2 separate regions of the Homo sapiens genome follow, and region 2 is linked to region 1. Evidence: fine-mapped expression QTL. A gene starts in region 1. The other region holds a variant in brackets. All regions are shown on one strand. Distances are between the middles of the regions. Region 1 holds the start of ALG12 (ALG12 alpha-1,6-mannosyltransferase). Region 2 overlaps LOC105377205 (a long non-coding RNA gene).

What was found.
Region 2: its variant is fine-mapped to the expression of ALG12 in T cells (TOPMed, PIP above 0.99).

Annotation. Positions count from the first base shown.
Region 1 is chr22:49,906,548-49,922,291 of GRCh38, forward strand. ALG12 (ALG12 alpha-1,6-mannosyltransferase) reads right to left here and starts at 11,891. Exons shown (of 10, transcript NM_024105.4): 1 at 11,716-11,891; 2 at 7,057-7,296; 3 at 6,838-6,970; 4 at 3,887-4,060; 5 at 3,347-3,541; 6 at 2,697-2,800; 7 at 1,174-1,397. The coding sequence starts at 7,218. CRELD2 (CRELD disulfide isomerase 2) reads left to right here and starts at 12,087. Exons shown (of 10, transcript NM_024324.5): 1 at 12,087-12,351; 2 at 12,683-12,765; 3 at 13,183-13,293; 4 at 13,609-13,700; 5 at 15,038-15,214. The coding sequence starts at 12,223. RefSeq lists silencers at 11,481-11,680, 11,791-12,290.
Region 2 is chr22:49,827,577-49,843,320 of GRCh38, forward strand. It overlaps LOC105377205 (a long non-coding RNA gene), which reads right to left. Exons shown (of 5, transcript NR_188597.1): 3 at 9,932-9,976; 4 at 9,716-9,818; 5 at 4,873-6,111. BRD1 (bromodomain containing 1) reads right to left here and starts at 297. Exons shown (of 13, transcript NM_001304808.3): 1 at 1-297. RefSeq lists silencers at 362-431, 11,460-11,509. The variant C/T (reference allele first, on the strand shown) is at 7,939.

The DNA of each region.
Region 1 (15,744 bases):
GGGCACCATCCCCTCCCCTGTAACAAGTGGCACCGGAAAGCACCTGACCGCTGCCTGAGATCAGGGACCGCATTGTGGGGCTTCCTCTCCAGCCAGAGTGGGCACCTCTCAATGCCCCAGGCCGCGGCCCTCCTGGCCTGTAGCCCTGCCGCCCCTCAATGCCCAGCGTGGCCTGAGTTGGCCTCCTGTTCCCATCAAGGCAGCAAACTCTGAACGGGCACAGAGCTGGCCAGCCTCAGCCCTGGGTTCTTCCGCAGCACCCACAGGGCCAGCAGTGATGGACTCTCCTGGGCCTGAGCCCCGGGTCCTTCCCCAGCACCCACAGGGCCCGGCAGTGATGGACTCTCCTGGCTCCCTGAGGCTTGCAACACTGAGTGGCAGCCGCGCTCAGACCACCCCACCCTCAGCCCAGGCAGTGCCCTCCCCAGGCCCTGCCAGGCCCCCAGCTCCACCTCCATCACCTGCTGCCTGCAGTCCCTCCCCGCAGGAAGCCCCCTGCCCTCCACAGGACCTTGAGCCTGGGCCACGCTGGGCCCTCTGCACCCAGCCATAGGCACCTCCCTCACCATCCCCCTCTTCCAGCCAGATGACCCGCCTTGACAAACGCCCTCAAGCCCGAGGCCCTGTCAGGATGGCCACGAACGCCCTTCCTCTACCTGACCTGTCGCCCTCAGAGCCTCCCAGGCCTGGCTGCCCCTGCCCTCTGCCGCTGCTACCTATGTGAGTGTCACTCTCCCATGACAGAGACTGGGACCGCTGGTGCATCACCATATGTGGACCAGTCACCAAATTAACCCAAGACAGAGACCACCTGAGCAAAGCCCTCTGTCAGCACAATGCCAGGCCGGTCCCATCCCATGCAGCCCTCAGGGAGGAGAGAGGACTGGGGTCACCCTCCTTTGACATAAGCGCCTAGTTCAACACACCCTGTGTTTATCTTAAAAAACAGCCCTGGTGGCTCACACCTGCAATCCCAGCACTTCCAGAGGAGGAGGCAGGAGGATGGCTTAACCCCCTAGGAGTTGAGGGGTGCAGTAAGCCCCACTCCAGCTGGGCGACAGAGCAAGACCCTGTTTCAAAAATTAAACACACACATACATCCCCCCAACAGTAAATCAGTGAACCTGTTTCCAATGAAACTATAAAAATGCATGTCACAAAAAGAGCACTCACAGGTAGGAGCAGCCTCTGGCAGCCGTGATGTTGAGCATGGGGAAGGCATAGATGATGAAGCGTAGCTCCTTGTGTGGCAGGAGGGAGTAGAGTGCCATGAAGCCCAGTGCCAGCACCGTCGGCGCGTGCGTCCTTCTGTCTACCAAGCCCAGGGGGATGAAGAGCAGGCTGCAGCCCAGGCCGCGGGGCAGGGCTGAGTAGAAGTACCACAGCAGCGGGGAGGTCTGCGGGCTGGGTTAAGGAGGCCACGCACCTGTCCACGCATGAGCCCGTGGGCTAGGTGGCAGGGTCAAGGTGGAGAAGACGCTTGAAGACAGTTGTGCTGAGAGATGCAGCCTGGACCACGGCTCGTGTGCACAGACACCACTCAGGCCTCAGGCCCCTCCTAAAAGACAGAGCCCAGGCCACAGCTCGGGTGCACACATACCACTTGGGCGTCGGGCCCCCTCCAGGCAGGACCAAGGCAGCAAGGGCCACAGGACGTTCGGTCTCTGTACCCTTTTCTTCACTGTTAAAAACAGATGGTCGGCCGGGCGCAGTGGCTCATGTCTGTAATCCCAGCACTTCGGGAGGCCAAGGTGGGTAGATCACGAGGTAAAGAGATCGAGACCATCCTGGCCAACATGGTGAAACCCTGTCTCTACTACAAATACAAAAATTAGCTGGGCATGGTGGCATGTGCCTGTAATCCCAGCTACTCAGGAGGCTGAGGCAGGAGAATCACTTGAACCAGGGAGTTGGAGGTTGCAGTGAGCCGAGATCATGCCACTGTACTCCAACCTGGCGACAGAGTGAGACTCTGTCTCAAAAAAAAAAAAAAAAAAAACCAAAAAACAAAAAACAGACGGTCACGGGTGACACACATGTTGGGATTCGTTATGCTGTTCCATCTATGCGTGTATGTTTGACATAATTCCTAAGAAAGCACTTTTTAAATGCAGATTGTCCGGGCCGGGCGTGGTGGCTCACACCTGTAATCCCAGCACTTTGGGAGGCCAAGGCAGGTGGATCACCTGAGTTCAAGAGTTCAAGATCAGCCTGACCAACATGGTAAAACCCCACCTCTACTAAAAATACAAAAATTAGCCAGGTGTGGTGGCGTGCGCCTATAGTCCCAGCTACTCATGAGGCTGAGGCAGGAGAATTGCTTGAACCAGGGAGGTGGAGGTTGCAGTGAGCCAAGATCATACCACTGTACTCCAGCCTGGGCGACAGAGCGAGACTCAGTCTCAAAAAAAAAAAAAAAAAAGCAGATTGTCCGAGGAGCAGAGGAGAGGCTGGGGTAATCTGGGGCAGGGCTGTTTCCAGCCCTCAGGCTGTTTCCTGGCTGAGAGAGGGCAGCCAGGACCTCACCTCCCATGGCCAGCATTTCCCAGGAGCAAGTGGGAGGGAGGGGCTCCATCCTGACCCTGCAGCCACGCTGCAGAGAAGGGAGAAGCAGCTGCTTCCACTGCCCATGGAGGCCCAGGAGATGTGGCTGCAGGTCCCACCCATCGCCCTCCTGCACGGACACTGAAGGATACCCCCCAGTTGGAGCTTTTGTTCAGGACAGTGTTGTACCAAAGCACCTTTCCTTCCGGCCAAGTGAGCTGCCGCCAAAAATAAGAGTCCACAGCAACCGTCAGTCCTGACAAAATAAAATAGAGTTTCTTAGTCGCAAACACAGCCATCAGTAAACATCCCGCCACAATGCAGCCCCCATCACTACAGAAACTACAAGCTGCTTTCATATAAAAGAGGTTGGGCAGGGTGGGAAGATTGCTGGAGCCTAGGAGTTCAAGGTTGCAGTGGGCCATGATCATGCCACTGCACTCCATCCTGGGTGACAGAGCAAGACTATCTCTAAAACAAAAAAAGAAAAAAGACACCAACTGTGTCGAGGACACCACTGCCCAGAACCACCGCCTGGCGCAGGGACAAGCCGCCCTCCACTCTTGTGGCCTCCCCCAGCCCAAGGACAAGGGACAGACCAGTGAACAGGGGCTCCTAAGGCGCACGGTGGGTCCCCCTGGAGATCCCCGGGCAGGGGGCTTAGGATTGAAATGTTTTCAACACTGCTAAATTTAGGGTCATTTTATTTCATGGGGATGAAAACCTCCCAAATTTCTCTTGACCTTTGTAAAACAAGGCAAAACAAAATCCAGTTAGAAGCATCCCACAGTGACTGACTTACCTAAACAGAGGATCCCTGCCGGGACGGCGTGGCGAAGGGCTCTGACTACAGAAACCTTTCGGTTGCCCAAGGCCAGCAGCAGCAGGAGGCCCAGGAACAGGCACAGCTCCACCCTGAACACGATGATGGCGAAGGCTGACAGCCAGATGAAGCGGGCCCACTCGTGCCGCAGCCAGGCCGCGAGGGCCAGCAGGACTGCAAGACAGTGCGGGAGGGTGCTCGTCAAGACACAGGGCCCACCCGGCCCAGAAAACACCCGGGGAAGTGAAGGGTGATTCCTTTTCCTATTATAAAAGCCACACAAATATCCCAGAAAAGAAACTGCTCAGAGCCGCTCCCCGCACCTATGCTGTTGGCCAGGAAGTGTGTCCCAACCCAGCATGGAAAACAAAGAGCCTGGTTTCAGGTCACAGACCATCCTGAGGAACCCAGTGGGGAATGGCCATTACGGGGGAGGCACTGCCATCAGCTGCACAGCCCGACTCAGGGGAGCCCCTGCCCGGCACCATGGGTGTGCAGGCCCGGCCGGCAGCTACGTACCTACAGGCAGGGCCAGCACATTGGGCAGTGTCCGCGTGCAGTAGAACATCAGGTGGAACTGCATGGCCGTCACCCAGCAGAACATGGTGGCCACCATGGCCCCGAAGTGCCGTCTCACTTCCTTTTGTAACGTCCAGAGTCCAAAAATCACGCCGAGTCCAAGCACTCCTCTAACTAAACAAAGACAGTGACAGCACCTGAGCCTGCAGTGGAGGAGTATCCAGTGGGGCCCCCTACGTGGGTCCTTCTACACAGATCTTTCTATATGGAGTTTTCTATGCTGCTGCAATGCCAGCTGACGGCTACGTCAGGCAAAGCAGCCTTGAGGGCATCGTCTCCATGTTGAAAACAGACGACTGGACCCAGGCCCCCTGCGCTCCTGTCGGGAACTGAGGACCCTTGCGGGGGCTGCTCTCTGAAGCATGAGGGAGGACACACAACTTGGGGGTGCCACGAGCTGAGCCCTACACTAAACCAGAGACCCCACCGGGCTGTGGCATCTCCAGGGGAAATGTTTGCAAAGGCCGGGCTCAGACCTTGCTCTAACCAGCAGCCATGAGGAGGTGGGATGTGGCAGGAACACAGGCTCCCAGGCAGGAAGGGGGTCAGGACCCCTCTCCCCATTTGACAGCAGGAGCCACCTCTGGGCTGGTGGTCTGATGAGGAGGTGGTGAGGGGGCAGGTGTGCCCAGGACAGTACCCAGCCGACCACACATCCTCACCGTGGACCGGCCTGTCAGCCGCTGGCAAGAGACTGAAAACAGGAAGAAAAATGAACTTCTGGGTGGCTCTTGCTACCTTTCCAGAAGGCCAGAGGAACTTCGAAGCCATGTGAGAAGCAACTGGGTCCAGGCAGCTGTGGGGGCCAATGGGCAGAGATACCCAGGCACTGCCAAGGGGGCCACGGATGTCTGAGGGCTGGACCTGCTGTTCCCAGAATACCCCATGTGCATACCAGGCATTTTCTTTTCACTGATTGCTGGATTCGGACTGCAAATGTCTTTTTTTTTTTCTTTTTAAGGACAGAGTTTCCCTCTGTTGCTCAGGCTGGAGTGCAGTGGCATAATCTCGGCTCACTGCAACCTCTGCCTTCCGGGTTCAAGCAATTCTCCTACCTCAGCCTCCGGAGTAGCTGGGATTATAGGCGCATGCCAACACGCCCGGCTAATTTTTGTATTTTTAGTAGAGACAAGGTTTCCCATGTTGGCCAGGATGGTCTCAAACTCCTGACCTCAGGTGATCCCCCCGCCTCGGCCTCCCAAAGTGCTGGGATTACAGGCGTGAGCCACCATGCCCAGTCTGAATGTCTTAATAGGACATTTTTCACTGATACTCACAAGTGGGTCTGGCTCCAGCTGCTGTATTTTTGGTGCTGGAATTTCCCCCGGGCTTTTAAACAATTCACAGACCCCAGCAAAGCCCCGCTTCCCCTTTTCCCCATCAGGTCCATCCCCTGCGTCTCTTCTCTTGGTTTTCCATCTTCCCAAATGCCCAACAATCTCAACCCCGTGCCCAACAAGGGTAGCCTCGGCCTCACGATCAGCCTCGGCTGCGGGATCACCCTCGGCCCCGGGATCAGCCTCGGCCACGGGATCACCCTCGGCCCCGGGATCAGCCTCGGCCGCGGGATCAGCCTGGCCCCGGGATCACCCTCGGCCCCGGGATCACCCTCGGCCCCGGGATCAGCCTGGCCCCAGGATCACCCTCGGCCCCGGGATCACCCTCGGCCCCAGGATGACATGCTCTTCATCCAGAGAGGAAGGATTTTGGCCTGTGGCAGGGGCTGGGGGGGGCACTAGCAATTCCAGGTCACCTTAGTGGGATCAGGAAGGACACAGGGTGGGCTCCCGTTCACCAGCTGAAGCTGCAGCCCTCCAAGGTTCTGTCCAGCTGGAGTCCACCCAGCTCTGCCCAACCTCCCAACCTCTTGCTGCCAACCCTGGAATAAGCAGAAGCTTCCAAGGGAATGTGGACTCAGCCCCGGAATTGCCTGTGGACTTCCTTTCCCTGGCTCGTGGCCCCCCAACTCCTCCCCATTTGGGGCTTCCTGATGCCTCTACAGGACATGCACGGCTTGTCCAGCTGTCCCCGTGCCATGGTGGGTTTCCGTTCCCAATCTGCCCCTTCAAGAAGCAGAACTGCTCCTTCCCCAGGAACGTGCTACTTCTTAAAGCTCTCCACACAAGCTGGACTGACTCGCTGGAAGCATGTCTGGGTATTAAAAGCAATAAAAGCGTACTGAAATAAAAAAGTGGTGATTGCTGACTTCAAAAACTCAGGTTGTGTGACTGGGCGTGGTGGCTCATGCCTGTAATCCCAGCACTGTGGGAGGCTGAGGTGGGACAATCACTTGAGCCCAGGAGTTCAAAGCTGTAGTGAGCTATGATTGCACCACTGCACTTCAGCCTAGGTGACACAGCAAGGCCCTGTCTCAAAAAAGAAAAAAAAATCGGTTTTTAGAACAATATGTACAAAACGTTCTAATTTTTTTTTTTTAAAGTCCTCATGTGGGCACAGAGAAAGACCCAGGATTTGCACACAGGCCCTGCAGTGGTGGCCTCTGGGAATGTGAGGTTTCTGTTTGTAACATTCCCCAAGGCAAATGGTGCTGCTTCTGCAGGAATAAAGGCTGTTGACCCCATGGGGGCTTGCCAGGTGAGGCGGGAGCAGCAGGCTCAGGTGGCGAGAGCTGCCTCACAGGCAGTCGGCATTTCTCTTGTACCTGCCGTCACCCCTAATTTCACAGTCAAGAGTGTGGAGGCACAGAGGGGCTGACTCAGACGTCTTAGGCCTGACCTGAGCACCTGCTCTGAGCCGCCATGCCACGGTGATCGAGGGCAGGCAAGACTAACAGACAGCGTTCCTGGGCAGGAGGGACCGCGGCCTCGCTGAGGTCACCCGATGACACCACAGTCCCTCACTCCCTCCTCCTTTGTTGAAGACCCCCTTACCTATTAGCTGAGAGTAAAACTTGGACATTTCTAACAGCGAAAGCACGTAAACCGCGGGGCTGGAGAACACTGCGATCACCACTGGCCCGAGGAACGTCCTGGGGACGACTCCGGGGAACTCAAGATGGTCGTACTGCGAGGAGAAGGGCAGGTCAGTGCACCGGGGCCCTGCCAGCTGGTAACATGAGGTTTTCCCCAAAGACAGCAGGGGCCCCTCACCTGCTCCAGGTCTTGCCAGTGGTAGAGCAGGTCATGTGTGGCCTGCAGGTTGAAGCTCTCCTCCACTTTGGTGTAGGGACAGATGACCAGGTGGACAGTGGCTACGGCCACCAGCAGCCCCAGCAGCAGGGGCCGCCTGCCTGATGACCCCTTTCCAGCCATTCCAGGCTTTCAGCTTCACGTACCTTCACAGGCCAACAGTGCGAGACACCAGCCGTTAGCACTGCCACTCCACGCATGCTGGAAAAGTGGAAACAGATTCCTGAGGTTCGAAAGTCACGCTTGCGCTCACGTTTGGGAGATCCGGGTAAAGGGTTAGCAGAATTCTCTGAACTACTGTCTTAGTCGCACTACTACAAATCTGAAAACGCATCAAGATGGAAAGTTTGGAGAAAAAATCACACTTGAGAATCTTTCATACTGTAACCAGTGATCTGACACTTCCAGCTCTGTGAATGTTTTTCTAGGCAGAAGGATCTCAGTCGCAGAACCCTGAGTCTGACCAGGCCTGGGCCACGAGGGCAATGGAGGGTGGTAAATGGCCCCTGCCCCCCAGTCTAAATCTGGCAGGAGAGTCAGCAAAACCCAGGCTTGGCCCCGAGGGAACCGGCTGAAGAAGACGGAATGGGAGGCTGAGGGGTGCCAGTTAGCTGGGTGGGAGGCACCAAGCTGGAGAGTGGTGGACAGGGGCCCCGGGAGGGCAAGAAACTGAACGTAGTACAGCTGCTGGGACACAGGGCTCGAGTGGCCAGCAAAGCCCCCGCTCCCAGGAATGGTGGGATGGGGCTGTGGACGCCTGCGCCGAACCCCACCCTGGGGGCTGGGAGAAGCCATGGCCGGCTTTCCCAAAGGTGGCACCACACTGGCCATGAGCCTGCATGTGAGCCTGGGAAGACTGGCAATGGGTCCCCCAAACACTAACAGGACAACCTCAGGGGCCCGTGGCACGGAGCTTCCTGAGAGGCCAGCAACATGTCCAGCTGCTACACGTGAGAGACCAAGGGAGGGGAGGGGGCAAACTCTTCACGTTTCTGGCTTCTTTTAAAACAGATTTGATTTTATTCAATCCAAACCAGAAGGGCCAGAAGCAAAGGGAGAGAGAACCCCAGGGCTTACCATTTATTAAAACTACTTTAAAAATTTTTTTTAAGAGACAGCGTCTTACTCTGTCACCCAAGCTGGAGTGCAGTGGAGTGATCATGGCTCACTGCAGCCTCAAACTCCTGGGATCCTTTTGCCTGAGCCTCCTGAGTAGCCGCAGCTACAGGTGTGGGTCACCACACTCAGCTAAGTTTTCTTATTTTTTGTAAAGACAGGGTCTTGCTTTGTAGCCCAGGCTGGTATGGAATTCCTGGCTTCAAGCCATCTTCCTACCTTGGCCTCCTGAAGTATTGGGATTACAGGCGTGGGCCACCATGCCCAGCCAAAACTATCTTTTGATCAAACGGAGAGTTAAGAAGTATACAAAGATGGCAACCAAAGGAAAATCTGTAGATTAGAAGGAAGGAGAACCCTATTTGATATGGTGGGCAGGGGGTGGAGAGAAAGAAAAAAGAAAGCTTTAATAATTTTACGACTGAAATGGTATGCAGTTCTCTCCTTTGCCAAATATAAAAACCTGGGGCCGGGCGCGGTCGCTCATTCCCGTAATCCCAGCTCTTTGGGAGGCTGAGGGCCAGGTGCGGTGGCTCATTCCCATAATCCCAGCTCTTCGGGAGGCTGAGGTGGGTGGATCACGAGGTCAGCAGATCAAGACCATCCTGGCCAACATGGTGAAACCCTGTCTCTACTAAAAATACAAAAATTAGCTGGGCATGGTAGTGCACGCCTATAATCCCAGCTACTCGGGAGGCTAAGGCAGGAGAATCGCTTGAGCCCAGGAGGCAGAGGCCGCAGTGAGCCGAGATCACACCACTGAAATCCAGTCTGGGCCACAGAGCGTGACTCCGTCTCAGAAATAAATAAATAGATAATAAAAAAATTTAAAAAAATAAACTTGGTATCAAACAAAGAGAAAGGTCGAAGGACTAGGTTAGGAATCACTAACTGAGGGAGGGCCCACTCAGCTGTCTCCCACTTGCTAAGACACAAGCTTTTTGACGGTGGGGGGTTTTTGATGCTGGATGATTTTTCCCACCAGCGCAGCCTCAGCACCAAGGACAGAGGCCAGCCGCTGTGGCCTGAAGGCTGCCTCGCTGCCACCTCCCCTGCTGGACTCATCCTGCGGGCAGGGCTTGCTTGGTGGACTCACTGCTGAATCAGCAAAGCCTGCCGCACAGTAGGCACTCAACAAGGCTGCCGAAGAAGAAATCGGTAAAAACTCCTACATGGGGTTCTCATCACACCAGCTCACGTGCTTATTAAAAATTCCAGCAGCCGGGAGCGGTGGCTCATTCCTGTAATCCCAGCACTTTGGGAGGCTGAGGCGGGTGGATCACAAGGTCAAGAGATCGAGACCAGCTTGGCCAACATGGTAAAACCCCGTCTCTACTAAAAATACAAAAAAATTAGCTGGAGTGGTGGCGAGTAGTCCCAGCTACTTGGGAGGCTGAGGCAGGAGAATGGTGTGAACCCAGGAGGTGGAGCTTGCAGTGAGCCGAGATCGCGCCACTGCACTCCTGCCTGGGCGACAGAGCAAGACTCCATCTCAAAAATAAATAAATAAATTAATTAAATTAAATAAAAATATGTTCCAACGGCCGGGCGTGGTGGCTCATGCCTGTAATCCCAGCACTTTGGGAGGCTGAGGTGGGTGGATCACAAGGTCAGGAATTCAAGACCAGCCTAGCCAGCATGGTGAAACCTCATCTCTACTAAAAATACAAAAATTAGCTGGGCATGGTGGTGTGCGCCTGTAATCCCAACTACTTGGAAGGCAGAGGAGGAGAATTGCTTGAACTCGGGAGGCAGAGGTTGCAGCAAGCCAAGATCGCACCACTGTACTCCAGCCTGGACAACAGAGCCAGACTCCGTCTCAAAAAAAAAGAAATAGGAAGCAAGCCGGATGTGTTGGCTCACGCCTGTAATTCCAGCTACTCAGGAGTTCAAGACCAACCTGGGCTACAGAGCCAGACCCCATCTCCACAAAAATAATCCCAGCTACTCAGGAAGCTGACATGGGGGGTACTGCTTGAGGCCCGGAGTTCAAGACCAACTTGGGCTACATCATGAGACCCCATTTCTACAAAAATAAAAAATAAAACGGAACGGGGAGCATCTACGTGCCAAGATGTGGGAGGTGCACACAGCAAGTGCTGCTTGGCAGTCCCCCACAACCCCACTCCACACCTCTCCACCCAGGGGAGTTCCCCAGCAAGGAAGAGTTCAGCTGTGGGGTGAAAACATTACGTGCTGACTCTGACACTCCTGGCGGGCCCCCAGCACCTCCTCGGACCCAACAAGGTGTGCCTTCTGCTGATGACCAGCACAGCTCACTTTCGAGGGCATGAGAAGACCAAGGGTGAGTCTGGATTCTCTGCCAGGAGCACGGGAAGACCAAGTCAACACCAGCAAGCACGAAAACCACGACGAACCCCCCACCAGGCGAGGGTGAACGGACACTGTCCTGCACTAGCCCACTCTGCTGGGCAGCTGGGCAGCAGCTGTGGCTAATCTAAGTGACGGGTGCTTCGAGAGCACCCACAGGTTAAAACGGGCCCAGGCCATGACACTTTAAAATGGTGGTTTACAGAACAATGGCATCTCAGATTAGGGAATGACCTGCAAAGACCCTCTTGTCCCCATCAATCCAGATTTTAAGGCCTCTACCGAAATTGATCAAATCAGGCTAAGCATGGTGGCTCACGCCTGTAACCCTAGCACTTTGGGAGGCTGAGGCAGGCAGATCGCTTGAGGTCAGGACTTCGAGACCAGCCTGGCCAACATGGTGAAACCCCGTCTCTACTAAAAATACAAAAATTAGCCGGACCTGGTGGTGGGTGCCTGTAATCCCAACTTAGGAGGCTGAGGCAGCAGAATCACAGGAACCTGGAAGGCGGAGCTTGCAGTGAGCTGAGATCGCGCCACTGCACTCCAGCCTGGGCGACAAAGTGAGACTCCGTCTCAAAAAAACAGAAAAGAAACTGGTCAAATCAGATGTTACTTTTTTTTTTTTTAAATGTGCAGTGTTATCTGCACTCCTTCCTTCCACAGGCAGGAGTTCTCTGAAATCCAGACGCTGCACGTTTTATTTCCCCTAATTTAAACCAGGGGTTCCTGAACATGAGCGAGTGTTCATCACCTCAAGCGCCTGTAGAAATGCAGATCCCCAGCCCCCAGAGACCCTAAGTGGACCCCAGATCCCCAGCCCCCAGGTGAAAAACCCATCCCCCAGGTGGGAGGTCCGGCCCCAGGTGAGGAGCCCGGCCCCAGGTGAGAGGTCCAGCCCCAGGTGAGAGGTCGGGCCCCCGGATGAGAGGTCCGGCCCCCGGGTGAGAGGTCTGGCCCCCAGGTGACAGGTCCAGCCCCAGGTGAGGAGCCCGGCCCCAAGTGAGGGGTGCAGCCCCAGGTAAGGAGCACGGGGCTGTGACGCGTGGACATGCGCGGTGAGGCCTCAGGAATCCAGCGCCAGCGCCAGCTCGGGTCGCGCCCTCGCCCGCCTCCTCCCTGGTCTCGCCGCGCGCCCGCCTGAAGGCCCCGGTCGCGGCAGCGCGCACTGACCTCCGCAGCTCCCGGCGGCGTCCTTCGAAGCGCGGCTGCCTGGGCCAGCCTCGGCAGGAAGCAGGACGGCGGAAACAGAACAGAGCCCGAATCTAAAGTCCTTGCCCAAATCTAAAGTGGCTACCGCAGCCCCGGCCGCTACGGCCGCAGAGACCCTCTGTGCCCTGAGTAAAGATGGCCGCCGCGGGCTGCGCGCGAGGGGCGGGGAGCGGGAGGCGGGGTCGGACCTGCACGCCCCGCCCCCGGACTCCTGGCGGCCGCTGATCCGGGGCCTTCCCATTGGTCACCTCTCGTGGCGAACTCGGATTGGGCCATATCAGGCCGGGGCGGGTCCCATCAACCAATAGCGGCGCGGGGCTGGCGGGTGGGGCGGGGCCTCGCCGGCGCCGTCAAGTAGCCTGGGGGACAGGCCGGCGCGGCTGGGAGCGGGTGGGCGGCCGGGAGGCCGGAGCAGCACGGCCGCAGGACCTGGAGCTCCGGCTGCGTCTTCCCGCAGCGCTACCCGCCATGCGCCTGCCGCGCCGGGCCGCGCTGGGGCTCCTGCCGCTTCTGCTGCTGCTGCCGCCCGCGCCGGAGGCCGCCAAGAAGCCGACGCCCTGCCACCGGTGCCGGGGGCTGGTGGACAAGTTTAACCAGGTGGGAAGGGGCCGGGCGGGGTCGTCAACCTTGGGCCCGGGGTCCCCCTCACCCTGCATCCGGGGTCGCCCCACCTTGGGCCCAGGGTCGCCCTCACCCTGGATCCGGGGTCCCCCTCACCCTGGATTCGGGATCCCCCTCACCGTCGATCCAGAGTCCCTCCACCGTGGTCCTGGAGTCCCCCTCACCCTTGACCCGGATCCACCCCCACCGTGGAACCAGGGTCGACGCCACCGTGGGCCTGGAGTCCCCTCACCCTCGACCTGGGCTCGCCCCCACCCTGGACCCGGGTCAGGTGGTACCAAGCACTATGGGCACTGTCTCCTCGCAGGGGATGGTGGACACCGCAAAGAAGAACTTTGGCGGCGGGAACACGGCTTGGGAGGAAAAGACGCTGTCCAAGTACGAGTCCAGGTGGGTGCCCTGGAGCACCCCTGTGGGTCTTGGCCTGGCGCTGTCCTGGGAAGTCGTGTCCTGCCTTTGGTGCCTGTGTTAATGACAGGGAGACAGAACAGCCCCCGAGGCACCAGTCACCCGTCCGAGTCACCTCGGCTTCTCCCTGAGGACTAATGGCTGGCCCCTCTCTGGCCTTCCAGCTTCTGCTCTGGTCCCTACCCCCTCAACAGACAGTGGCTTTTCAAAATGTAAACTGGAACACCAGCCCCACTTGTGGGAACCGCTCCTGGCTTCCCCTGACAGTGGGGTCCCCTTATTCTCTGTGCCCGGAGTCCTGGCTCCCCGGCCCCTGCACCCAGGTTGGCGTATTGGTTCGGATTTTTCTTCACTGCCTTGGAGGCGCTGACGGTGGGCCGGTGTGGGCCTGTGTTTCAGCGAGATTCGCCTGCTGGAGATCCTGGAGGGGCTGTGCGAGAGCAGCGACTTCGAATGCAATCAGATGCTAGAGGCGCAGGAGGAGCACCTGGAGGCCTGGTGGCTGCAGCTGTGAGTGCCTTAAAACCTCTTAGAAGATACTTTTTATTTTCCAACTTAGAATTTGAAATAACCTCAGACTTAGAAAGGTACAGGAACAGTAGGGAGCTCCCACCTGCCTCGCACCCACCTTACCCCTGCATTACCGTTTTTTATCACCAGAGTCAGCGATCAAAACCAGGAAATTAAGGAGAAGATTCTGTCCACACCTAGACTCTTGTTTCCTGGACCTTACAATACTCCAGAGCATATGTTACGTTCAGCTGCATGTTTGTTTTAAAGAACCGTGTCTGCTGGGATTCAGTGAATGTTTTCCTCCATCCTCAGGAAGAGCGAATATCCTGACTTATTCGAGTGGTTTTGTGTGAAGACACTGAAAGTGTGCTGCTCTCCAGGAACCTACGGTCCCGACTGTCTCGGTGCGTTTCTCCTCAGGGAAATCCCATCTCCTACGTCACTTCCCCTCTTCTTCTCATGATTCTTGGGAGGTAAAAGCACAGAGGGGACCTGGGGTGCATCAGCTTTCTGTAGGGTCTGGGACCCTGCCGGATGGCTGCCTCCCCCATCCCCAACACAGCTTGGAGCACTTCGCACCGTCTGGCTGCAGCCTCACCACTAACCTCATGCTTTAGCGTAAAACTCTGAGTATGTCTTCCCAGCTGTGCTGTTAATTCAGGGGTTCACAGACTCAGGTTGTTCACAGCTGAGTCCACTCACCTGAGAGTCTGTCCTGACTGACCTGTCCAGGTGCTTCTCCCTGTGTGCACAGAGGTGACCACACCACAACTTCTGTGGCTGCTATTGCAGAGAGCGCAGGGCACTGGGTGTCTATCAGGCTGGGCACATGGCCTTGAGCCCCAATGGGTGCCAAGGGACAGGGCTCTTCTGTGAAGAAGTGTGCATTGAAACTGAAGTCACGGTTTACTGTTTATAAAAGCCAATCTCGTGGTCAAGCGAGATCAGGTAGCAGAAGTTTCAGGTTCAGACCCCCCACCCGCCCACCATCAGCCTTCTGCCAGCCCCTGCTGCTGTCCCTGGCATGCACTGGAGGCCGCAGCTAATGTTCCCACTCTCCCTGCAGTCCCCGCGCCTGACGCGTCAGTGTCCCTATCACCATGTTTCAGCTGAGGCTGCCCAAAGCCACACAAAGTGCAGTCATGTGTAACGACCAGGCGTGTTCTGAGAAATGCGTCATTAGGCGACTTTGTCATGGTGCAAACATCACAGCGTGCACTCCACACGCCACACGCCACACGCCTAGATGGTGCAGCCGCTCTGCACCTAGGCTGCCTGGCAGGCCCTGCTGCTCCCAGGCCGCACACCTGCACGGCTCGTGAGGGTCCTGAGTACTGTGGGCCATTTGGCACGTGGTAAGAATGTGTCACCTGAACACATCTAAACATAGAACAGGTAATGAGGCACATTGTGATGTCACTAGGCAATAAGAGCCGCTCAGCTTTAGTATCATCTTAGGGGACAGCTGTGCTATGCAGGGTCCCTTGTTGACCTAAACGTCATCATGCAGCACGTGGCCATAGTGAAGCCCAGGAGCCTGTGGCTTGCTCCACTCAGGCGATCCACCGCCAGCCCTGCAGACCCAGGAAATCAGTTTCCCCAAACACCCACTCCAAGCCTTCAGGCTCATGTACGTCCTCAGAATCGTACAGGGTTTGGGTGCCATGCGTTCTCTCCGTGTGAGAACACCGCACCGGTCACCACCAGGTGTGCTCTGAGCATGGTTTTGTGTCCCCTAAAGCATGCCAGGGCGGATCCCAGAGGCCCTGCAGCGGGAATGGCCACTGCAGCGGAGATGGGAGCAGACAGGGCGACGGGTCCTGCCGGTGCCACATGGGGTACCAGGGCCCGCTGTGCACTGACTGCATGGACGGCTACTTCAGCTCGCTCCGGAACGAGACCCACAGCATCTGCACAGGTACGGGCTACGCCTGGGCTGGCCCCGGGGTTGAGGCGGGATGACAAGAGCCCCTTGCTGGAGCTGCCTGCCTAGATGGGAACAGGGGCCTGTTGATCTTTAACCCCAGATGTCCAAGGAAGCTTCGAGGGCCCAGAAGGATGAATGAAAACATCAGAGGATAGAGGCAGAGGTTGTCGGGCACTTCCTGTCCCGTAACAGCCCTCAGAAGGGAGAAGCTACTCACCTTTCTCTCTAGTTCAAGGTCCACCCCGACCTTGAGTTGTGATGGGCCATGCAGTGCACAGGTCCTGGAGGTGCCGTGTGGGCCCCGCACCGGCCCAGAGAGCAGCATCTGTCAAATCCCTGCAGGCCGTTATGAGTGGCATCTTTCCAAAGGACGTTTTCTCCCTGGTTGTCACTGATATGTAGGAAAACTCTGAGTGTCTCGGACGTGAGTGTGTGGTTGGCCGGCAGCCCCTAGGCTATTCTGGGCAGACAGACCCGTGGATCGATAGTCAGGACCGGCCTCTCCGATTCTTACGCCCCTC
Region 2 (15,744 bases), 79 kb before region 1:
CCGCGGCTCCTCCGCCAACGGCCGCGCAGGCCGGGCCCCGCCGCCGCTCCTGGGCGCGGGCCCCTCTCGGCCGCGGCGGCTCCGGGCCCGGCAGCGGCGGCCGCGGACTCTCGGGCAGCGGCTCGCGCGGCGCGGGCTCGGGCTCGGGGCCCAGCTGGAGGCCCGGCTCGGGGGGCCCGGCCGGCGGGCGCGGGCGCGGGCGCGGGAGCGGGCGGCGGGCGGCGGGCGCGGGACGCGGGGCTGGCTCGGACTCCAGGGCCGGGTCGCTCGCTCGCTCCCCAGCGAAGCAAACAATGCGGCGAGCGCTCCGCCCGGCGCGCTGCGTGCGAGACGCGCCCCGCCCGCCGCCGCCATGACGCGCGGACTCCGCTGCCTCGGCCGCGCGCGGGGGAGGGGGCGCCGCGAGGAGCGGGGGCCAAAGGGGGCCCTGAGGCGGCGGGGACCGGGCTGGGAGTGGGGGGTCGGGAGGATGGAGAGTGGGGGCCCTTGAGTTAGGGAGGACCGGGCCAGAAGGTCCCTGAGGGGGTCAGGAGGATGGAGAATGAGGGGCCCTGAGGCAGGGGGACGTAGGCCTAGGAGTGGGGGGCCCCGAGGCAGGTGGGGAGCAGCCGGGAGTCGGGGGCTTTGAAGCAGGGGGGTACCGGCTGGGAGTGGGGGTCCCTGAGGCAGAAGGGCATTGGCCCAGGAGTGGGGTCGCTGAGGCAGGAGATGGCCCAGGAGTGGGCGGCTCTGAGGCAGGGGCTACCACCGGCCTGGAGTGGGGGGCCCACAGGCGGGGGGACGGGCCGGGAGTGGGGGTACCTGAGGCAGAAGGACATTGGCCCGGGAGTGGGGGGCCCCGAGGCAGGATGGGGGAGCAGCCGCCAGTCGGGGGCCCTGACGGGGGAACGGCCAGGAGTGGGGGTCCCTGAGGCGGGGGGGACCAGCTGAGAGTGGGAGTCCCTGAGGCAGAAGGCCATTGGCCCAGGAATGGGGGGCCCTGAGGCAGGGGGCGATTGGCCCACGAGTTGGTGGGGGCCTGAGGCAGGGGGCGATTGGCCCACGAGTGGGGGGAGGCCTGAGGCAGGGGGCGATTGGCCCATGAGTGGGGGGCCCTGAGGCAGGAGGCTATTGGTCCGGGAGTGGAGGTCCCTAAGAGGACAGAGGGGGCCCTGCGGGGGCACTGGGTGGGAGTGGAAAGGGCACTGGCCGGGACACGCGACTAGGTAGAGGTGGGTGGTGCAGCCGGGCTGGGGAGCCTCCCCTAGTGAGTGTCAGGCCCGGTGTGCAAGTAGTCCTGCCAGTGTGAGGGCCCTGCCGAGGCCGGCGTGAAGCAGATGCCCTTTAAGGTTGCAAGAAAAGGCCCCTGCGGGTGGGAGTTGAGAGGCCTGAGTCTCTGCCTTCACTTTGGCCTTTTGTGTAAACTCTAAAATTCAGTGGGGTCATAACAATTTTCACTCCAAGATTAAATCCCAAATGTTTTAAGGTGAGGCAGGAGCTCCTTGGTTTCCTTGAGAATTTGTGATCAGGACGATGGTGCTGTGGAATCCCTGGGTTCCAGCAGCACAGCCTGTGGCATCCAGGCAGGCCCCTCAGGAAGAGCAGCTGTCCACCCTGGGACAGACCGTCCCCACGGGGGCAGCCGAGCGGCCCCACTGCTCGGGGCACTGCACCAAACACCTTATTGGGAGTGGGGTGGCCTTGTTCGCCCAAGTGTCCCTGATAGGGGCCAGGCCCCACAGGCCTTTTCCTGGCCAGTCCTCATGCCCATGGCACCCAGTGTGTGGGTTGTGACGTGACGACTCAAGGGCAGGTAGGACCCCAGCCAAGGCCCCAGTGGTCAGTCCTGATCTAGGACTCCCTGCAGACACACCCTTGAGCTTAGGGGGTACAGGCCACTGGGGCCCTGACCTCTTCTGCACCAGACCCAGGAGCTTCGTGTCACCTCCATTCTACAGATGTCTGTTTACCTGTGGCCAAACAAGCAAGCTGAGCCCGAACGCTTCTCTCCTCCACCTCAGGGAAGCCAGATGGAAACCAAGCTGGAGGTTCTCCACAACACAGAGCAAAAGTAAGACACAGTCTCATGAAAGAGAAGATGAAAAGACACGAAACCCTTCACAGAAGAGGAGACGGGGACAGTGGCCTCTCAGACAATGCAGGTGATGCTCAGAGGAGTGAAGAACAAAGCCTCGAACGTAGGCATGTCACAGGGATACTCAGGAAGGCCTTCGGAGAGGATCTTCTTTAGAATTCAGACTCATCCTACAGAGGAGGGGTTGCCAAAATACTAAGAGAATTGAACCGTAACTCATACACAGTGAAACTAGCGTTCCAGTGAGACAGCAAAATAAAGGTGTCTTCACCGCCGGTTAACATCCACATTTACCACACACGCAGTCTGTAAAAGTACTAGAAGAAATACCTTAACAAAGTGAAAAGTGGACCCAAGAGTAAGACGTGGATGCCAGCAAGTAAATCAGTCTGGTCCGTTAAAAGAAAATCAACCTGAGAGAAATCCCGGATGAACTCAACATGACACATGGTAAGGCGGGGCGCAGAAGGAAGTGAAAGTGCACGAAAGCTCTTGTATTGTTTGGTTCGAGGATTTTAGAATCGATAGAAAAAAAGGTTAAAAATTTTAGCTGGGCATGGTGGCTCACACCTGTAATCCCAGCACTTTGGGAGGCCGAGGCGGGCAGACTACCTGAGGTCGGGAGTTCAAGACCAGCCTGATCAACATGGAGAAACCCCATCTCTACTAAAAATACAAAAAAAAAAAAATTAGCCGGGCGTGGCGGCGCATGCCTGTAATCCCACTACTTGGGAGGCTGAGGCAGGAGAATTGGTTGAAACTGGGAGGTGGAGGTTACAGTGAGCTGAGATGGTGCCATTGCACTCCAGCCTGGGCAACAAGAGCAAAACTCCATCTCAAAAAAACAAAAAAAAAAAGTTTTAACTATCAGAAAGTTTCCACAAGAATGGTGGAAAAAGAATTTACCACTTTCAGAACAGCTGAGGAAAAAGCGAAATGAAAAACGACAGCAGCAACAACAAAAAAAAAACAGGAATGAGTAAAAGATAAAATCATGATAAATACAGAACATAATATGAGTTGGCAGAACTAAGTTCAAACATTTGAGTAATCAGAGGAATGTGATTGGATTAAATGCATCTATTAAAAGACAACCTCTCTGAATGGAATATAAATATGGTGAAATATTCTTACAAGAAATTCACCTGAAAAATAACAGATGAAAAATAAAACGATGGGGCCAGGCACAGTGGCTCATGCCTGTAATCCCAACACTTTGGGAGACCGAGGCAGGTGCATCACCTGAGGTCAGGAGTTCAAGACCTGACCAACATAGTGAAACCCCATCTCTACTAAAAATAGAAAAATTAGCCAGGCATGGGGGCACGTGCCTGTAATCCCAGCTACTCAGGAGGCTGAGGCAGGAGAATCACTTGAACCCAGGAGGCTGAGGTTGCAGTGAGGCAAGATTGCCCCACTGCACTCCAGCCTGAGTGACAGAGCAAGACTCCATTTCGTAAATGAAAGGATGGAAATTATCATATGTTTGTTCCTCAAAAGGCACCATAAAGAGACTGAAGAATGAAAAACTAAAAGATATGTACACCTTGCAGATGATTAGTATTTAGAATATATAGAGAACCCCTTCAGATCCATTAGAAAGAGACAAACAAGCCAACAAAATGATGCACAAAACCCAAATCAACAAAGAAACCCATGTCATAATCAGGCTTCTTGCAGAGAACATGGAAAGGCCAATCATCTTACTAGTAAATTTGGAAATGCAAACAAAATACACACCAAATAGGCACCAGCGTTCATATGTGGCAATACTCAGCGATGGCAAGATGGCAGAGCAATACCCTGCTGGCCAGAATGTCGAGTGGGACAATTATTTGGTAAATATCTTGGTCATAAGGCGTTACCCAGTGAAAGTGGACATGTTTATCAGTTACCTCTTGCTGCAAAACAAACCACCCCCAAAACTTTGTAGCTCAAAACAGCAGTCATTCCTTTTGTTCACACATCTGCTATTTGGGCAGGATTCAGCAGGTACAACTAGACTACTTCCTGCATCCTTATCTGGGGCACCTCCACTAGGGGCTGGAGGAGCCACTTCCAAGATGGTGCACTCACGTGGCTGGGACCTTGATCCAGGCTCTGGGCTGAGGGCCTTGGGAACATCCTCATGGAATAGTAGCCATGCTGCAGGAGCAAGGGTCTCAAGAGAAGCAGGTGGGACCTGTATCACTTTTCACATCCTAGCTTCTGAAGTCACACGCATCACTTCTGCCATAGGGACAAGCCTGTCCAGATTCAAGAGTTAGGGAGAATACAGACCCCACCTCTTGGGACATGTGTTATCATCACATTTTAAGAGAAGCATGCTGTATGGGAGAAGTTGTTGTGGCCACTTTGAGAAGATGCAAGCTCCCCCAGTGTGCATACCCATTCCCGGCTGTAGGGTTAAGTCAATTTGTATTCCTAGGTGCATTCCGTGCCTGGGTGTGTGCCTAAGAAACCTGTTCATCAGGGCCGGGCGCCGTGGCTCACGCCTGTAATCCCAGCAGTTTGGGAGGCTGAGGCAGGCAGATCATGAGGTCAGGAGATTGAGACCATCCTGGCTAACACGGTGAAACCCCATCTCTACTAAAAATACAAAAAATTAGCCAGGAGGCTGAGGCAGGAGAATGGTGTGAACCCAGGAGGCAGAGTTTGCAGTGAGCAGAGATTGCGCCACTGCACTCCAGCCTGGGCAACAGAGCAAGACTCCATCTAAAAAAAAAAAAAAAAAAAGAAAAGAAAAAAAGAAACTTGTTCATCAGGAAGCATGTGCATGAATGTTCAGAGCAACACTGTTTTTGGTGTTTTTTTTTTTTTATTTTAACGCTGTTTTTAATAGCAAATACTGGGAGAAATCTTAAATATCAAAGGACGGTAAAATGGACAAAGTGAGGTGTATCCACGCAATGGAATAGCACACAGCAACAGAAATGAATGAATTCCACCACCAACACGGCCAAATCTCAAACACATAATTTTAAATGGAAGAAAGAAATCTCAAAAGATTACAGAATATGATTCCATTTACACTCAGCAGACAGAGCTAGGAAATAAGTATGTACAAACACACACACACACACACACACACACACACACACACACACACACACACCCATATCTTTTCTGATACCTCTTAGCAAACCTTGAGTTCATACTGATACCTGTACCTCCAGTTACAATCTAGCATGGAGTTGATTCTACCCTCCTCTGTTTCTACATAACTATCTATGCCTTCACTTAGTAGCTCAGTCCCCCGCTACATAACCATCTCTAGGCTATACAGGACAGAAACTTGGCCCCAGACACAACCACTGCCCCCCATTTTGCACCAGCCAAAAATGCGGTTCTGGGGGCATCACTGCTCTCCAGAATGGTTATATCTGCAGGCTGAAAGCACAGCCCAAGAAAAGGCAAGGAGGAGGATGCTCATGTTGTTTCTGATATTCTGTTTCTGGCAGGAATAAGACAAAACCCTTCTTCTTTGATCTATCTCACCTTTAATTTATTTAATTTTTATTTTTACCCGGTATCTGCAACAATCTACTTTAGGAGACTATCCTTTCACAAACATTAAAACGTTCTTTAAATGGTGTTTTTCTCACTTCAGAATTCAGGAAAAATAGTTTTACTGACATTTACTTTTAATAAAAACGTAGTAATTTGCATTGTTGCAGTAGAAATTTGTCCTCCTTGTCACCAGGATATAATCAGACAAATTAATAGTGGAGCCCAGGCCTTACATGGGTGTCATATTTGAGAATAACTTTCCTGTGCTTCCACAACACGCCCACCTTTAAGGAACAAGGGTTGTGGCTTGTGTGCTGAACCAATGCCCACACAACCCTCAGACCCATACTGGCCGGGCACCTGTACTCTGGCACACAAAGCCTCAGCCTCACAAGTAGTAAGAAGGATACTTCCTGGCAGGCCAAGAGCCATGGCAGACACTGGAACCTTCTGGAAGATAGAAACTTGCACACACACAGGTCCCGCGGGCACACCTGAGGGAGGTGGATTTGGTTCGGCTTCCTGGCCTAGGAACAGAAGAGCAAATAAGAGAAATTAAAAAACAAAAAATCTCAGGTGTGATGTAGGCTCAGTCCTACATTCCTTATGATGACACGTCCAGACAGAAGTTGATTTTCCGGCTTGGTCATTGCATAACGCCATCTGGTTTACATGTGTCACCTAACAAGGACACTCGTGCGTGGTAATTACCACTTCTTGCAGCACCTGTGTAGATGAATTAGGTCAGAATGCAAGACTAGCTTTCTGTGGTCAAGAATAACCTTCGGAGATTATTTATCATCCCAAGAGGGAGCTAATAAAAATGTCCCAGATTAAGGATTAGACACCCCAAAATGAGTGTGTCCATTCAGTGGCAGGCTATGTTCCTGAGCAAGCCTGCCAGGCAGATTTTCGGATCCTCTGGAGTGTGCGCCTGCTTAACTTGCTATATACTATTGATTACGATATTTTACAACTCAGCAAGGGTAGACTTTAATTTGTTGAAGATAGATGGCTAAGTAAAATTATTCCTCTCTGACAGCAATGCAAATAAATTTTGCCCAGTAGTGAGTGATAGAAATTATTTCTGTCCAGTGGAAAAGATTACAGTAAAAAAGGTTGCAGTTTGACTGGGCGCAGTGGCTCACGCCTGTAATCCCAGCACTTTGGGAGGCCAAGGTGGGAGGATCACCTGAGGTCAGGAGTTCGAGACCAGCCTGGCCAACATGGTGAACCCTTGTCTCTACTAAAAATACAAAAATCAGCCGGGCGTGGTGGTGGGCGCCTGTAATCCCAGCTACTCAGGAGGCTGAGGCAGGAGAATTGCTTGAACCTGGGAGGCGGAGGTTGCAGTGAGCTGAGATCAAGCTATTGCACTCCAGCCCGGGCGACAGAACAAGACTCCATCTCAAAAAAAAAAGAAAAGAAAAAAAGAAAAGGTTGCGGTTTATGGCCCTGTAGAACATTAACCAGTTTTTTTAAAAATCTAAATAAGCAGAATTACTCAAACTTTTTTAAGTCACTACAAATACTTCCTTCTCTCCAATCTTTTGAACCAGCCTCACCATCATGCTGGTTTCCTCATTAATGATTAAAATAAATCTTTGACACGTCTTCACTTTAGAGTTGTATGAGTCATGTTTTTAACTTTTTTTTTTTTTAAGACGGAGTCTCGCTCTGTCACCCAGGCTGGAGTGCAGTGGCGCGATCTCAGCTCACAGCAAACTCCACCTCCCAGGTTCATGCCATTCTCCTGCCTCAGCCTCCCAAGTAGCTGGGACTACAGGCACCCACCACCACGCCCGGCTAATTTTTTTTTTTTTTTTTGTATTTTTAGTAGAGAAGGGGTTTCACCATGTTAGCCAGGATGGTCTCGATCTCCTGACCTCGTGATCCGCCCACCTCGGCCTGCCAAAGTGCTGGGATTACACGCGTGAGCCACCGCGCCTGGCCCTGTTTCTAACTTTTTAAAAAGTATGCTTTGACAGCTCCAACATCTAGCTGCCTTCTCAGCCTCTCCTCCAGGATGTCCTGTAGGCATCTCGAACTCAACGTATCTGGCACTCAGCTTTTGGTCTTCATCCCCAAACTTCTCTGCTGTCTCCTTCCTCGGTTATGGGTTGAATTGTGTCCCCCCTGCAAAAGGTATGGTGAAGTCCTAAGCACAGTACCTGGGAATATGAGCTAATTTGGAAATAGGGTCTTTGCAGATATAAAGTTAGGATGAGGCCAGGTGCAGTGGCTCACGCCTGTAATCCCAGCACTTTGGGAGGCTGAGGCGGGCGGATCACCTGAGGTCAGGAGTTTGAGACCAGCCTGACCAACGTGGTGAAACCCCGACTCTACTAAAAATA[C/T]AAAAATTAGCTGGGCATGGTGGCGCATGCCTGTAGTCCTAGCTACTCACAAGGCTGAGGCAGGGGTATCACTTGAACCTGGGAGGCGGAGGTTGCAATGAGCAGAGATTGCGCCACTGCACTCCAGCCTGGGCAATAGAGTAAGACTCCATCTCAAAAAATAAATAAATAAATAAGAATAAATAATAGGCCGGGTGTAGTGGCAAAAAATAAATAAATAAATAAGAATAAATAATAGGCCGGGTGTAGTGGCTCAAGCCTGTAATCCCAGCACTTTGGGAGGCCAAGGCAGGCAGATCACGAGGTCAGCAGATGGAGACCATCCTGGCTAACACGGTGAAAACCTGTCTGTACTAAAAATACACAAATATAGCCAGGCGTGGTGATGGGTGCCTGTAGTCCCAGATACTTGGGAGGCTTAGGCAGGAGAATGGCGTGAACCCAGGAGGTGGAGCTTGCAGTGAGCTGAGATCGTGCCACTGCACTCCAGCCTGGGCGACAGAGCAAGACTCCATCTCAAAAAAAAAAACAACAAAAAAGACATAAGAAAAAAAAGAATAAATAATAATAATAATAATAATTAAGTTAGGATGAGGTCATTGAGTTGGGCCCTAATCTAATGACTGGTATCCCTTTCTAAATTACACAATCTGCTAACCTTCTCTGTATCATTCCAATTTTAGTGTATGTGCTGCTGAAGCAAGCACCTGGTATTCTTATAAGAAGAGAAATTGGGACACAGACACACAGAGCAAAGACAGCTATGTGACAATGGAGACAGAGCAGAGTAATGTGGCCACAAGCCAAGGAATGCAAAGTATTGACGGCCACCAGAAGCCGAAAGAGGCAGGAAAGACCCCTCTTTATGGGTTTCAGAGGGAACACAGTCCTGCTGATGCCTGGACTTCGGGCTTCCGACCTCCAGAGCTGTGGGAGAGTGAGTTGCTGCCATTCTCAGCCCCCCAGGCTGTGGCGCTTTGTCATAGCAGCCATAGGACATGAATCCACTTTCTCAGCTAAGGCAACTCCGGGCTTCCTAGGTGAGAGGCACTCCTGCACTGCTCATGTCTGACCCGCTGGCAAAGCCTGTCGGCTCCCCTTTCAAAATAAGTCCAGAGCCAGCCCTGTGTCACCGCCTCCTCTGTTCCCTCAACACCTCTCACCTGGATTATCCCAGTAGCCTGACCCACCTCTCTGCTTCACCCTTGTACCCCTCTGCCTCTTCCTCTCTACAGCAGCCCAAGTGACAGCATCTCCTGCGTTTAACACCTTCCACTGGCTTCCCATCTCCCTGGGAATAAAAGCCACAGTCCTCAACTCCACAACAAAAAACACAGAACCTGATTTTTTTTTTTTTTTGAGACGGAGTCTCACTCTGTCGCCCAGGCTGGAGTGCTGCGGCGCGATCTTGGCTCACTGCAACCTCTGCCTCCTGGCTTCAAGTGTTTCTCCTGCCTCAGCCTCCCAAGTAGCTGGGATTACAGGCGCACACCATCACGCCTGGCTAATTTCTGTATTTTTAGTAGAGACGGGGTTTCGCCATGTTGGCCAGGCTGATCTCGAACCTCTGACCTCAGATGATCCGCCCGTCTCGGCCTCCCAAAGTGCTAGTATTACAGGTGTGAGCCACTGCGCTCAGCTAGAACCTGATTTTAAAATGGACAAAGGACTTGAATAGACAACTACAAATAGCCAATAAGCACATCGAAAGATGATCATCATTAGCTCTCAGGGAACTGCCAATCAAAACCACAATGACATCCTACTGCACACCCACCTGGAGAGCTAGACCCAAAAAGTCAGGTAGTGAGTGTTGACGAGGATGTGGAGACACTGGAACTCTCTCATGCTGCTGGTGGGACCGTCAAATGGTGCACCTGCTTTAGAAAACGGTCGGGCAATGCTTCAAAATGCTGAACACAGAGCGTCCATAGGTCCCAGCAAGTCCACTCTGAGGCATATCCCCAAGAAATGAAAATATGTGTCCACATACACACTTGTATGTGAAGACTCATCGCAGTGGTATTTCTCATAATAGCTGAAAAGTGAAAACAGGTCATGAATGGATAAATCTGGCATATACATAGATGGCATATAATTTGGCAGTAAAAACCAAGTATTGACATGTGCTGCATCATGAAGAACCCTTGAAAACATGACGCAGCCACAAAAGATCACATATTGTAATGATTCCGTTTACATGAAATGCCCAGAATAAGCAAATAGGTTGCCGGGGTCTCAGGGAGGGGAAACGGAGTGAGTGCTAACGGGTATGAGGTTTCTTTTGGGGATGATGAACAGGTTCTAAAACTGACTATGGTTAGGACCGCACAGCCCTGTGAATACACTAGAAACATTTCATTGAACTTGTTTTTGAGACGGGGACTTGCTCTGGTACCCAGGCTGGAGTAAATCACAGCTGCTGTAATCACAGCTCACTGCAACCTTGAACTCCTGGGCTCAAGGGATCCTCCCATATCAGCCTCCTGAGTAGCTGGGACTAAGGATGCGCACCACCACACCCGGCTAAGTTGTTTTTTTTTTTTTTTTTTTAATTTTTTTGTAGAGACAGGGTCTCGCTTTGTTGCCCAGGCTGGTCTCAAACTCCTGGACTCAAGCACTTCGCTCTCCTCAGCCTCCCAAAGTGCTGAGATTATAGGCAGGGGCCACTGCACCTGGCCTGTCCATTTTAAGTATACAGTAAACTGCATGGTATGTCTGTGAATTCTTTATCAATGAGGCTATTTTAAAATCCATAGAATAAATAATTACATAAATAGGCCGGGCGCGGTGGCTCACGCCTGTAATCCCAGCACTTTGGGAGGCCGAGGCGGGCGGATCACGAGGTCAGGAGATCGAGACCATCCTGGCTAACACGGTGAAACCCCGTCTCTACTAAAAAAAAAATAGAAAAAAATTAGCCGGGCGTGGTGGCGGGCGCCTGTAGTCCCAGCTACTCGGGAAGCTGAGGCAGGAGAATGGCGTGAACGCGGGAGGCGGAGCTTGCAGTGAGCCGAGATCGCGCCACTGCCCTCCAGCCTGGGCGACAGAGCGAGACGCCATCTCAAAAAAAAAAAAAAAAGTACAGAAATAAAAATTAAAAGTAAAACCAGAGACTTCTAGCTCAAGAGGAGATGGAACGGACTCATCTCTCCGTGCTCCTCCAGCTACACACACCTTTCAGCACTGGGAGCCAGTACAGCAGACAATTGCAGGCCTCGAAGTGGGGGGAAGAGGGGAACCGGCCGGTGGGGACCGCGGACTGGAAAAAGCGCGGCCGCCTGGAGCCTCCCATCCCCGCCCGGCAGTGGAAGGCAGTCCAGGCCCAGTATCTCCTGACCCAAAGTGGTGCAAGGGGGTCCAGGCCTAGGGCCTCCTCTCCTCCCCTCGCCTCTCCCCACGCCTCCCCAGTAGCTGGGGGAAGCCCCACAGCCCTCCCATAGGGGAATCTGCAGAGGCGGAGCCGGAACTTGCTGGCACCAGGTCCGCCCACTCCCCACCTAACAGCTCGGAGAAGCCTGGAGAGGCGCCTCTATCCCCACCGGCAGCAGCAGCCTAATTACGTAGACGCCTAAATAGCAGATCTAGTAGATAAACTCAATTCTTGTAGGAACCACAACCCACAAAAGTAGGCCAGGATGTGCTGCACCTCAACAGGGTGACTGCCTGCTGAAATAGCAGGTTTAAGTAGGATTCAGAGTCTGCTGCTGATATACAAACTGTCCAGATGACGATTCCACAATCATGCATCACACCAGGAGCCGGGAGACTCATAACTTGACTAAGAAAAGACAAATAACGATGCCAACACCGAGATAAATCAGGTATCGGATTATCCGAAAATGATTGTAAAGCAGCCCTCACAAAAATGCTTCAACAAGCATTTACAAACTATCTTGAAACAACTGAAAAATAGAGAAAAAAAGTTTTTGGTTTTTTTTTTTTAATGAAATCGGGGTGTGGGGAATGAGGGTAGGCGGCTGAGGCAACAGAATCGCTTGAGCCTGGGAGGCTGAGGCTGCAGTGAGTCATGATCGCACCGCTGTACCCCAGCCTGGGTAACAGAGAGAGACTCTGTCTCAGAAATAAAGAAAGAAAAGAAAAGAAAAAAGAACCAGATGGAAATTGTAGTGTCGAAAAGTACAATAAACCAAACTAAAAAACTCACTGAATGGGCTCAATAGCAGCATGAATATGACAGAGGAAAGAATCCATGAGCTGGAAGACAGAACAATAGAAGTAACCCAATCTGAAAAAAAGATGGAAAATAGACTGAAAAAAACTGATGGAACATAGCCTCAGGGACCTGTGGGACTATTTTTAAAAATCTAGGCCAGGCGTGGTGGCTCACACCTATAATCCCAGCACTTTGGGAAGCTGAGGAGGGCAGATCACCCGAGGTCAGGAGTTGGAGACCAGCCTGGCCAACATGGTGAAACCCTGTCTCTACTAAAAATACAAAAATTAGCTGGGCACAGTGGCTCTTGCCTCTAATCCCAGCACTCTGGGAGGCCAAGGTGGGCAGATCACCTGAGGTCAGGAGTTCGAGACCAGCCTGATCAACATGGCAAAACCCCATCTCTACTAAAAATACAAAAATTAGCCAGGCATGGTGGCAGGCGCCTGTAATCCCAACTACTTGGGAGGCTGAGGCAGGAGACTCACTTGAACCCAGGAGGCAGAGGTTGCAGTGAGCCGAGATTGCACCACTGCACTCCAGTCTAGGTGACAGAGCAAGACTCTGTCTCGAAAATAAATAAATAAATAAAAATCTAAATTTTGTGTCATTGATGTTTAAGATGGAGAGGAGAAAGAGCATGGAGCTGAAAAAAATATGTGAAGAATGAACAACAAAATCTTCCCAAATTTGGCCAAAGACATAAACCTCTAAAGTCAAGAAACTCAGAAAACCCAAATAAGAGAAATCCAAAGAAATCTATGCCGCACACATCGTGATTAAACTTCTGGGAACTAATGACAAAGAAAAAACCCTTGAAAGCTGGCAGAGAAACAACACATTGCCTATGGGGAAGAACATAGCTTTGTATTGGAAACCACCGAGGCCAGAAACAAGTGGTCTGGTGTTTCTCACGTGCCGAAAGAACTATCAGCCACGGATTCTATGTGGAGTGAAAATGTCCTTCGGGAACAAAGAGAAATAAAAAAAATTCACAGACCAAGGCACATGAAAAGAATTTCTCACTAGCAGAACTACCCTTAAAGAACAGCTAAAGGGGGGCTGGGCGCTGTGGCTCACGCCTTCATACCAGCACTTTGGGAGGCCGAGGTAGGCGGATCACATGAGACCAGGAGTTCGAGACCAGCCTGGCCAACATGGTGAAACCCCATCCCTACTAAAAATACAAAAATTAGCCAGGTGTGGTGGTGGGCGCCTGTAATCCCAGCTACCCGGGAGGCTGAGGCAGGAGAATTGCTTGAACCTAGGAGGCGAGGTTGCAGTGAGCTGAGATCAAGCCATTGCACTCCAGCCTGGGCGACACAGCGAGATTCCATCTCAAAAATAAATAAATAAAAGAATAATGATAAACATAAAAATAAATTAAAAAATAATGGAATTGTCTATTTTCTATATATACTTAGTGCCACATCAGACAGTGTTATAATTTTGCTTCAACCATCCAATATGATTTTAAAAACTTATGAGAAGGCCAACCTAGTGTCTTTACCGGTGCTTACTCATTCTACCATCTTCTTTCCTCCCTGAACATTCGTTTGTTGTCATTTCTTTTTTTTTTTTTTGGAGACAGAGTCTCGCTCTGTTGCCCAGGCTGGAGTACAATGGTGCAATCTCAGATCACTGCAACCTCCCTCCACCTCCCAGGTTCAAACAATTCTCCCTGCCTCAGCCTCCCAAGTACCTGGGATTAAAAGCACACGCACGCCACCATGCCCGGCTAATTTTTTGTATTTTAGTAGAGACAAGGTTTCGCCATGTTGCCCAAGGCTGGTCTTGAACTCCTGACCTCAGGTGATCCACCCACCTCGGCCTCCCAAAGTGCTGGGATTACAGGTGTGAGCCACCACGCCCCGCCTGTTGTCTTTTCTTTTCTGTTCGGAGAATTTCCTTTACCTGTTCTTCTTCTTTTTTGAGACAGAGTCTCACTCTATCACCCAGGCTGGAGTGCAATGGCCCGATCTCTGCTCACCGCAACCTCCGCCTCCCGGGTTGAAGAGATTCTCCTGCCTCAGCCTCCCGAGTAGCTGGGATTACAGGTGCCCAATATCTCACCTGGCTCATTTTTGTATTTTTAGTAGAGATGGGGTTTCACCATGTTGGCCAGGCTGATCTTGAACTCTTGACCTCAAATGATCCACCCACCTCAGCCTCCCAGAGTGCTAGGATTATAGGCATGAGCCACCGCGCCCGGCCAGCTAGGTGTAAATTTAAGAAAACATGTATAGAACATGCTAAAAACTATGAAATGCTGATGAAAGTAATCAAAGATCCAAATAAGTGGAGAGATAAACCATCTTCACAGATTGGAAAGCTCAAATAGAAAAAGTGCCAGTTTCCCAAGTATGGTGGCTCAGACCTGTAATCCCAGCACTTTGGGAGGCTGAGGTGGGCGGATCACTTGAGGTCAGGAGTTCAAGACCAGCCTGGCCAACATGGTGAAACCCCATCTCTACTAAAAATACAAAAATGAGCCAGGCATGGTGGCAGGTGCCTGTAATCTCAGCTATTCAGGAGGCTGAGGCAGGAGAATTGCTTGATCCCAGGAGGCGGAGGTTGCAGTGGGCCGAGATCGCGCCACTGCACTCCAGCCTGGGCGATGGAACATGACTCTATCTCAAAAAAAAAAAGAAAGAAAACAAAAACACCCAAAATTGACCATAGATCTAAAACGTGAAACTATAAAACTTTTAGGAAAAACATAGGAGAAAATCTTTGGGATCTTGGGCTAGGCAAAAAGTTCTTAGGTTTGATACCAAAAGCGTGAGCCATAAAATAAAATATTGATAAAGGGAACCTCATTAAAACTAAAAACTTTTGCTCTGTGAAAGACCCTGTTCAGAGGATGAAAAGACAAGCTACAGCCTGAGAAAAAGCATTTGCACACCCCCTGTCTGACAAAGGACTGGCGTGTAGAATATAGAAAAGCTCTCAAAACTCAACAGTAAGAAATAAAAATAAGCAATCCAATAGAAAAGTCAGCAAAAGATATGAAGAGACATTTCCATGAAGGGAATATACAGAATAAACACACACCATGATGTCCATCATCCTTAGCCATTATGGAGGTGCAAACTAAAAGTGCAACAAGACATCACACCTATTCAAATGACTCATATGAAAAGCAGTAACACCACCAAACACTGGCAAAGACCTGGAGAAGCTGGGCCATTCATGCATTGCTGGTGGGAATGTAACATGGTACAGCCATTCTGGAAAACAGCTTGGCAGTTTCTTCAAAAACTAACCATCTGACTACCATGGGACCCAGCAGTTGTGCTTCTGGGCATTCATCCCCGAGAAAAAAAGACTTTTTTTTTTTTTTGAGATGGAGTTTCGCTCTTGTTGCCCAGGCTGGAGTGCAGTGGTGCGAGCTCAGCTCACTGCAACCTCTGCCTCCTGGATTTCGGCGACTCTTCTGGCTCGGCCTCTGGAGTAGCTGGGATTACAGGTGCCCACCACCACACCCGGCTAATTTTTTTGTATTTTTAGTAGAGATGGGGTTTCACCATGTTGGCCAGGCTGGTCTCAAACTCCTGACTTCATGATCTGCCCACCTCGGCCTCCCACAGTGCTGAGATTACAGACGTGAACCACCGTGCCCAAAAAAT